3 separate regions of the Homo sapiens genome follow, and all the other regions are reported to be linked to region 3. The links are microRNA targets in miRTarBase. Many come from high-throughput screens and were not tested one by one. Region 3 holds a microRNA gene; each other region holds the end of a gene's coding sequence.
What was found. The annotated mature microRNA hsa-miR-548ai reads AAAGGUAAUUGCAGUUUUUCCC and lies in region 3 at 2,084-2,105, shown strand. An mRNA with a match to its seed (bases 2 to 7 or 8) in the 3' UTR can be bound and repressed. Matches are read on the target gene's strand: a 7mer-m8 pairs with bases 2 to 8, a 7mer-A1 pairs with bases 2 to 7 and ends in A, and an 8mer does both.

Region 1 (3,261 bases), not on the chromosome of region 3:
TTCAATTACCTCCTACCAGGTAACTCCCATGACACGTGGGAATTATGGGAGCTAAAATTCAAGATGAGATTTGGGTAGGGACACAGCCAAACCATATCATCATCTGTCCACCTATGGCCTTCATCAGCCCTTCAGGTAACTTAGTTTTTGACACCTGTTTCCTATTTCACTTAATCAAATCTATTTTGCTTTTGTATGTTTTTTTTCCACTTTTTCAAACAGAAATGTTTGCTTGCCAGTGATAAGCTAAGTTGGTAGGTAATGAATAACAAAATGACCTGGATATTTTCTAAGGCCTTTATTCCCCCTTGGTTGTAATCTTAGTTTGAGAGAAGCCATAAGGATACCCAGTTATTTGTAGAATGGATACATACACTTGAGGTGACCATGAAGTCAAAGAATGGGACATAGAGGACTACTCTGCTTAGCTAGTTTTTTTTTTTTCCTATTTTCCCATCCTTGCAGAATCAGATTCATAAAATTTTAGAAAGATTCTCACAGTTCAGCCATGGTTGTGACAAACTCTGAATACCAGAGGACACAAAGGGAGAGGAAAAACTGTTCTATTTTTTTTCCCCAGGTACATGTGGAAAAATTTTGCTGCACTGAAAATAACCCTTGCCTTTCTCTTGCTCCAGGCTGCCCTTTTCTTGGGCCTGGGGGTGTTGTTCTCCTTGGTCAGCATTCCCTTGGTCATCTATGACTGGGCCTGCTCATCGAGTAGTGACGAAGGCCACTGAAACCCGCCGAGAAAAAGAAACATCCCTGTTGTCTGCTCAGTCAAGTCCCCACACATCAGCAATCTCTCACCACTTCTTTTGCAAGTTTACAGAAGCAAACAGAAATGTACAGGATACTTAAAATGGAATAACTTTTTGGTTGCAAAACAGAGACATGGTTCTATAATGCTTCATGTCCCTCCAAGATTTGAGATCAATTTAGGGATTGTGAAATTTTTTTTTCAAATTTCATACAATCATATTTCCCAGTACTTTTCACAATCATTTTTTACCCATCTAACTCTATGTTTTGTGGCTTCCCGGTCTCTTAGAACTTTGAAAACATGATATACAATAATGTTTATTTATTATACATCCAGATTCTGAAATAATTTTCCTACTGATGTTCAGCTCACACTATCTGTACCTTTTTAGAAGAGAAAAGAATCTTGAATTGTATATATTTATTTTGCTTTACAGAAAAAAATGGTTTCGTAAATAATTTGCCTATTTTGGTTAACATAGCACATGGAGATAATCATCTGAAAGTTATAGGGCACTGCCACTGCTGAATCAGAGCATGCCCAATATTTGAGGTGGCTCTGATTTCCTGGCAGCTGAACTCGGGTAGTCCAGTGGCCTAGCTGGTACCACATCTATTCCCATCCAGAGACATTCTCTGGCAAGTGTTCTCAGCTGAAAAGTGGTTGGGGATGATTCTTACCTTGGTAATTAAATGAAGCTACACATTTGGGTAATCTAGCAAATGAAGTATTTTTTCCCTCTTGGCAACTTGTGTCAGAGTTACTCTGGTCTGAGTCAACTTTCGCTGGGGAAAACCTATGGAACCTACTGCAAAAAGATTGTCCAAAATGCCTAAGAAAATACTCCTCTGATGCATTTAGCCTTCAACCCTACCTGTCTTGCTGAAGGGAGAAAAATGTTTTAGTACATTATAGGCCCAGCAGCTTTTATTCATGTCCACCAGCTAGTTGCACAGAGAATCATGTGTACCTAACTAAGGATGATCTAGGATAAGTAACTCCTGTTTTATATTGAGTATTTTAGGGAAGTCTTTAAAAGACTTGTTTTATATCTATAAATCTAGGTTATTACAAATACAAGAATTTTGTACCTTAAATAAGCCTCATTTCTATTTCTTCTTCATTAATTCTCCATCTAGTCTTGTGAAAAAAAAAAAAAAAAAACCCTCAGAGATAGTCTTTGTGAAGAGCTTCTGACAGAATCACTGAGTACCTTCCTTCCCCCAGATGAGGAAGACAAGGGGGTCTCAGTGTCTGTGCTGTCTCCTCTTCTCTTCCCCAACCAAGGACTGTGCCATTACTGCCCGTCTCAACTGTCCATGCAGGAGGACAGAGTTGCCTGGTACTCTTACCCTTGTCCCTCTCCTAAAGGGAGCACAAGGAAACTGAAGAGACTGAAAAAGAAGAGAGTTTGTAGCTGAAAAAGAATAGGGATAGCAAGGAAACCCAGAACTGCATTCCCCTAAGTGGGGCCATCCCATGTGATTGAATTGTCCATAGCTTGCCTATGGTGAGAAATGTGCATGCTCCGTGAGCTGGTCTCTTGAAACAGGACTTATGCTTCCTCTATATTCTGGTTAAATTTTCCAAACACATAAGTTCACTGAGCACAGATTTCTTATCCAGAGACAAGTAGAATCTAACCGCAGACTGTTGGCAGAGTTTCCAGGCACTTAGCCATGTTCCCTTCCTGACTCAAATCCCCAAAGGCCTTCACTCTCACTGAGAATCACACTACTGTCCCATAGATAAGGCAGGCATTGAAGCACCTGTCGTGATCCTCTAGGGGGGAGAATGAAAGGTTATTTCCTGCATTGCATCATCATAGCTTTTAATATAATGCTACAGAATCATATCCACATTAGGTTAGAGTTCAGATATTTGGATATGAATACCTAACCTAGCCATATCCATGGCCATCTCTGTTCTTTTCAGCAATGTTTTCCATATTATATTAGCAATGACAGAAACAGAACAAGCCAAGATCCAGTCAGTTCTTGGGAGCTTGTCTAGAGCACCAAGTAATGAAATAGCCAGGTAGTGGGATGACTGTACCTTTAAAAATACATAATTTAGTTTGCAAGCTATATTATGCTACTTTCTATTTTCCTTGTTACTTTATAGCAATTCATTTTACCCTCACAAAGTCAATTTAGAACCTTATCATTAACTGGGATGTGTAGTGATATTTTTGGGCCTCTGGGTTTCATGTGTCAATACAAGGAATATTTATTTAAAATAGATTTATTTAGAGGAGGCACAGTGTTGTTGATCTGTGTGACACCACCCATATTTTTAAAAACCTTTGTATGTTTCTCTAAATTTGTTGTTGACTGAATATAATAGACCCTACCATAATTCGTCAAATATCACTGATTAGTTACATCCTTTGTGTGAGATTAGCTGTAAAGTATACTGCTCTTATTCTTATTCAGAATAGTTAATTGGTAGCCAAAAATACATGTATCACAGATGTTAGGTCGAATTTAAACAGCACA
Region 2 (3,261 bases), not on the chromosome of region 3:
TTCTCAAAGAAGTTATAGAGTGGACCCCAAAAAGGTCAAAAACACCTAAATGGTTCTCTAAAAAAATTCTCTGGTACTCTGTTTTTCTTTTTGTAATGGGCCTCCTTTATCAGTAAAATCGATATTAAAAAATGCTAATTAAATGAAGATTGTGTTAGTCATATTTGGCTTTTGTGTTACTGTTAAAGTGAGAATAGAAAATGCTTAATGACAAAAGGAACTTTAATTAGAGTTTAGTTAATAACTACGGTTTCTTTTTAAGCTTTTAATTCTAATCTGTCAACCTAAATGACTTTCCCAGGAATATTTAGTGACATTCATCTGCTGGCTATGATGTACAGTGGAGAAATGTGTTACTGGGGATCGAAGTATTGTGCTGATCAGCAACCAGAAAATCATGAAGTGGATACTAGTGTGTCTGGAGCGGGCTGCACTACATACAAGGAACCCTTGGATTTCCGAGAAGTAGGAGAAAAAATCTTGAAAAAGTATGTATCTGTGTGTGAAGGACCCCTGAAAGAACAAGAATGGAATACAACGAATGCAAAACAAATTTTAAACTTCTTTCATCATCGCTGTAACTAGTAAGTTCATCTAGTCCTTTTCAAATAGAAAAACAACAAAACCCATGAAATGGAAAAGAGAGTTCCAAAAAAGAAGACCTGTTGATACTGAATATGAGAACATTACACTGCATAAAGATATCCAGCTTGGGTACCCTACTAAAACAACATCACCATCTTTTTCATTATATATTAGTAAACCTATGAAGGGATGATTCTTTAATTTCTAAAGTGTTGTTCAAACTCACCTTAAAATACAGATGTTATGTCACTAATAATGAGTAGTAACCCAATTTAGCTTTACAAAGATTTTTTCTATTACTTTTTTTTTTTATTGTGGTATATGTAACACAAGTTTACCATTTTTATCATCTTTAGATTATTTTTAAATCTCACTACCTTGAAGTTTGCCATGCTTCAGAAATTAAAGTCAAGTTACTTCACTGCTTTGAATACATACTATGGATATAAATGTAGGCAAAATGAAAGATTATGACTAATATTCAGATTCCATTTTCAATAAGGTAAATAATGAAAGATCTCACAAAGGAATCATTGTGTTTAATTATTTTGCCATGTATTACTAATTGTATTTAAAATTTCTACTTCCCTTAGGCATTTTATAAAAATTTAAAAATTATTTTTCTATTTTGTTTAAAAGACAATGCATGGCTTTTCAAGTGAGTAATGAAGATAAAAACCAAGCTAGGTTAGTCTACCATTAGTTCATATGTTTTTGTAGCACATCTTTTCATAACATACTGAAATTTTAATGTTTTTTGCCTTTAATAATAGGGGTGAGTGTTAAAGGCCAGAGAGCCTAACTTGATATCTTGCTCATGGTCTTTCTGTCTACCTCAACTCCTGTTGTCATCTTTGGATGATCTTTCTGATACCTTGCTGATACCTTGGACTTCTGCCCAGTGACTTTATTACATTCCAGCAGCTTACTCCCGTGGCCGCACTTTGAATGTCACCACCTTGAGTTTCTCTTTCTGGTAAAATTTCAGTAACTGATAACTGCCCTCTTTTCAGTTTTTTCACTTCCTTATTTTATTGACTTTTCTCTCCTTTATGCTCATTCCACATTCTTCAGTTCCTTCTTACCCCCTTTTCTTGACTGCTCCCCTTCCTCCTAAACTGTCAGCCCCTTTCAGGCTTTCTTCCCTATCCACCCTCAGCTTTATGGGATACTATATGAACTAATCTCACCAGTTATTCTTCTTTCCCTGGTCTTTTAGTCTAGTCCTTTGGCAAGCCCTCAACCTCAGATTAATCCTATTTATTATCTACCTTTTCGGGGATGCTGAGTTCTTTGTGATGGGTAGTCCTTCAAAGTAGAATCACTACAAGTGTCTCACTTCAGCCTTAGAAAAGCCCTCAATGTAAACCTTATGTTTGTTACTAGGGTGGCCTCTCTCCCATTTCCCGCTGTGGCTGAGCCAAACTTCATTACTTTCCTTAGGCCCTCTGCCCCTCCCCTAGCATATGGCTCTTTCTCCTATTGAACAGAAAATTGAGACTATGAAGAGGTCAACTTGTATTTACCAACTTTACTCATTTTCCCATTTTAGAGGAAAAGAGGTTGCCTGCTTCCTATCAAAGGCGACTCTGTGCTACATGTTGGTTTCATCTTCGCTGTCTCTCTCATTTCCCCACAAAGTGTTGTCTCACTTTCTGCCTACCTTTTAGGTATTGATCTTCACTATATTTTTTTCTCTCTCTCTCTTTTTTTTTTTTACTTTACATATTTTATACAATGTCATTCATAACTATGGCTTCTTTTACCACCTGTAATAACAGACTGAGTCTCAAACCTGTAACTTGTATCCTGACTTATCTCTTGCTTTCTAAACCTTGTTTCTAACTGTCTATCAAATATCTTCATTAGACATCCCACAGTAATTTTAAGCTCAGTGTTTCCAAACGTCAAGTCCTCATCTGTTATATAAAATCCTTTCTGCTTTGTAAGTTTTCTCTTTTTGGGATTTTCCGCAGATCAGGGCAACACAGAATGACTACCTTCCCAGCCATGTCTCTGCAGTCATCCTGTGTAATCATGTTCTAGTCCAGTGTTGCTCAAACAGTTAAAATCCAGGCTGCTTTTGGTAAACATACAAATTCTGATATAGAGCCTCTGTGGCAAAGGGAATTTCTCAGTTCCTGCCCCAGCCCCCTTGTTTATCATTACACAGCTAAGATTTTTATTTAACTTAGCATTTTAGCAAGTTTTCTTATGAAAATACCTTTGTGCTTTCTAAGTATAAAGATTTAAATTATTTTTAATACGGTTTTTAGAACCACAGACTATCCCTCTTTTTAGAGCATCCTGATCAATTGCAAGTACTTCCACTTCTTCCCTAAATGCGCTTTGTGTGTTTTCCACCTCAGTAGCCTTGCACACATCATTACTTCTGCATCCTTCTTTGTGACCAAGTGAATACCTACCTACCTCTTAGGACTCAGCTTCAGTGATTCTGTTTTCATAGGCTTTTTAAAGCCCTTTTCAGTCAAATTAGATGCTCCTTTGTTCTGGTCCTTTACTCTTCCCCTCCCATGTTGTCGCACTGATCACACTGCTTTGTAATTATTTTCTTTATTGTTGGTAAACTCCATATTTTAAAAATTTACCTGTATACATAGTGCTTAATGCATGGTAGGCCCTTAGTAATGTTTTTGAATTAATGAGGCATGATTC
Region 3 (3,261 bases):
ACACACCACCATGCCTGGCTAATTTTTGTATTTTTAGTAGAGATGGGGTTACACCATGTTGGCCAGGCTGGTCTCAAATGCCCGACTTCAGGTGATCCACCCGCCTCGAGCTCCCAAAGTGCTGGGATTACAGGCGTGAGCCATCGCGCCTGCCTTTACTTTCCCATTCTTAACGCCTCCCGTTTCAGACCTGTCCCCTTTTCCCCGCATTTCTGACTGTCACGGCACATCACAACCAGCAGACAGGGCTTCCCCTATTTCACAGGAGAAATAGAAGCCATCAGATGGGACCTCCTTCAAAGTCCTGCCACCAAACCTCAGCATGTACCTGGACCCACATGTATCCTCTTTTCCTTTGGGATTGAATTAGAGAGGTGCCGCTCGAAACCCGCTCCTGGGTGGGAGTCTTGGCTCTATCAGTTATGCCTCTATTCTGTATGTTTAACCTCGCCCTCGTAGGGGCATAAAACAGCATTTAAACAGGATCAAGCTTTCCATTTTAAAACTCCATACACTCCCTTAATTTCATCTCCTCCTCCACCTACTGCCCCATGTCTCTCCCTCTTCCTGGCTAAACGTCTCAAAAAAGTGGATACACTTTCTGTCAACTCCTAAACACTCCTCACGCTCATTTGGCCTCTGCTCCTCCCTTCCTCCTCCCACTTCATTGGAACTACTTCTGCCAAAGAGGATCCCTGAGTCAGCCTGACTGGTAACCCCAATGGACTCTACTCAATATGCAACATCCTTCACTTCTTAGCAGAGTTTGAAACAGCCTGACTCTCCTCTTCTGGCAACATTCTTTTCCTTGGTTTGGGGACGCTGTACTGTTCTGGTTTTGCCCCTCCCTCCGAGCATTCCTTGTGTTTGTCCTGGCCCATTTTCTCCTCTCATTCTACATCCTCTCCCCGGGGATTTTAGCTTCTCTCACGGCTCAGGTTACCATCTCCATAGTGATGACTATCAAATTCTGTACCTCATTTCCAGAGGCTCCTGACAGACTTGCTTGGTCAATATACTACTGGACATATTCATGAGACTGTCTCACACAGGCATCTCGAACCCAGTGTGTCCCACAATTCTCTTCCTATCCATGCCTGTTCCTCTTCCACTGCCTCATATGTCGGTGACTGTCCACCTTCTCTCTCTCTCCCCCTCTCCGTTTGGCTCATAGGAAAAGTGTCACCAAGGGCTGTAAGTGCAGATTTCTAATTATCCCCTAAATTTGAACATTTTTCCTCTCGAAAGTGTATGGCCATTACCCTATTACAGATCAACATCTTCAATCACTGGAATGATGGCAATAATCTAATTGGGTTCATTTTATCCTCTATCTAACAATGACAACTCATTGCCTACACAGCAGGTAGAAGGAGTTTGTTTTCAGAATTGCCCTCTGACCTATTTAAGACGCTCAGATATTCCCTGAGGCTCCTTGGCCTGGCCACAAAGGCCCTACACATTCTGGCTGCTTCCTCCTTTCCAGCATCCTCTCTCACGTCTCCTCTCCTCAGTTCCACCCTCAGGAGGCACCAGAATTCCTCACTTCTTTGACTACAAGGCACCGTCTTACTCCCAAGACCAGTGAATCCGAAGGTGGACCACCAGCTGAGGGACTAGATTCCAGACTGAATAGAACAACTTTCCCTGTCTCTCCACATAAAGTGTGTTTGTTTTTCCTCTTACAGGTTTCCTTAATGACAACAAAAAAGGGAGTAATCCTACCCACTGTAAGAGTCATGACTCTTGATTGCAGCTGACAGAAACTCATGACAGCCTGCTTTAGATGAAGGGGGAGAGAAGGACTGGAAGAATCTTGGAGTTGGGAATGTCACACGTAATTGAAGGAAGAACAAGAAAACTATAGTAAAGAACCCTGGGGTGGTGATGTAGTCATGGGCCAAGTGTCCTGGAACCCTGGGGTGGTGATGTAGTTGTGGGCCAAGTGTCCTGGAACCCTGGGGTGGTGATGTAGTCATGGGCCAAGTGTCCTGGAACCCTGGGGTGGTGATGTAGTTGTGGGCCAAGTGTCCTGGGTTTTGGGTGGAGAAAGAGTCCCCTAGATAAGTTATTAGGTGGGTGCAAAGGTAATTGCAGTTTTTCCCATTATTTTAATTGCGAAAACAGCAATTACCTTTGCACCAACCTGATGGAGTCCCCCTTGCCATGCTTCTCTCTGTGAAAAACCCCAAGCCGAAGTCAGCATAACATCCACAGGACTCTATGTTTGCAAAAGCCAGCTTAGCTATATTACATGTATAAGCACATTTTTTCAATAAGTCAGCCTTAGCTTACTGTAACTTTTTAACTTTATAAACTTAGTATTTTAACTTTTTAAACTTTTTTGTTGAAAACTAAGACACAAAAACACATGTTAGCCTAGATCCACACAGGGTCAGGGTCATCAGTATCACTGTCTTCCACCTCCACATTTTGTCTCTCTGGAAGGTCTTCAGGGGCAATAACACACATGGAGCTGTCATCGCCTGTGGTAACAATGCCTTCTACAGTACTTCCCAAAGGGCCTGCTAGTTCACTTAATTCTTTTATAGAGAGAAGGAGTACACTCTAAAACACTGATCAATAGTATATTATAGTAAATACATAAACCAGGAACACATTTATTATCATTATCACGTATTGTGTATTGTACAGAATGGTGTGTGCTGTGCTATCCAGGAACACATTTATTATCATTATCAAGTATTGTGTACTGTACAGAATGGTGTGCGCTGTGCTTTTATGCAAGTGGCAGCACAGTAGCTTTACACGAGCATCACTAGACACATGAGTAGCATTGCACTCGGCAACAGGAATTTTTTCAGGCCCATTATTATAATCTTATGGGACCGCATCCTATATGCAGTTTGTCATTGACCAAAATGTCCTTATGCGATGCATGACTATATTTGCAAAGGACTAGTATCTAGAATACATTTAAAAGTCTTAAAATAGTAACAAAACAAAGAATGCAATTAGAACATGAGCAAAAGATACAAAGCAACATTTCACTGGAGAAGATATACAGATTGCAAATAAGCACATGAAAAGATGTTTGATACCATTAGGGAAACGCTTCTTTAAACCAGGAGATATCACCACGTGTTAGAATCAACAAAATAAGGCCAGGCATGGTGGCTCACACCTGTAATCCCAACACTTTGGGAGGCTGGGGCAGGCAGATCACATGAGATCAGGAATTCAAGACCAACCTGGCCAACATGGCAAAACCCTGTCTCTGCTGAAAACACAAAAATTAGC

Region 1: miRTarBase lists SLC38A1 as a target of hsa-miR-548ai. Seed matches in the 3' UTR shown: 7mer-m8 at 1,440-1,446 and 7mer-A1 at 1,852-1,858.
Region 2: miRTarBase lists RIMOC1 as a target of hsa-miR-548ai. The part of its 3' UTR that is shown has no 7-base or 8-base seed match.

Annotation. Positions count from the first base shown.
Region 1 is chr12:46,186,449-46,189,709 of GRCh38, reverse strand. SLC38A1 (solute carrier family 38 member 1) reads left to right here. Exons shown (of 17, transcript NM_030674.4): 17 at 639-3,261. The coding sequence ends at 740. Among named protein-coding and RNA genes, the nearest start is that of SLC38A1, 81 kb to the left of the region's middle.
Region 2 is chr5:41,916,715-41,919,975 of GRCh38, forward strand. It overlaps RIMOC1 (RAB7A interacting MON1-CCZ1 complex subunit 1), which reads left to right. Exons shown (of 6, transcript NM_175921.6): 6 at 302-3,261. The coding sequence ends at 585. Among named protein-coding and RNA genes, the nearest start is that of FBXO4, 6.9 kb to the right of the region's middle. RefSeq lists an enhancer at 1,633-1,792.
Region 3 is chr3:195,697,342-195,700,602 of GRCh38, forward strand. It overlaps MIR570 (microRNA 570), which reads left to right and starts at 2,060; the gene lies at 2,060-2,156. The region is part of intron 2 of MIR570HG (MIR570 host gene); the gene reads left to right. LOC124909477 (a long non-coding RNA gene) reads left to right here. Exons shown (of 2, transcript XR_007096227.1): 2 at 1,689-1,729.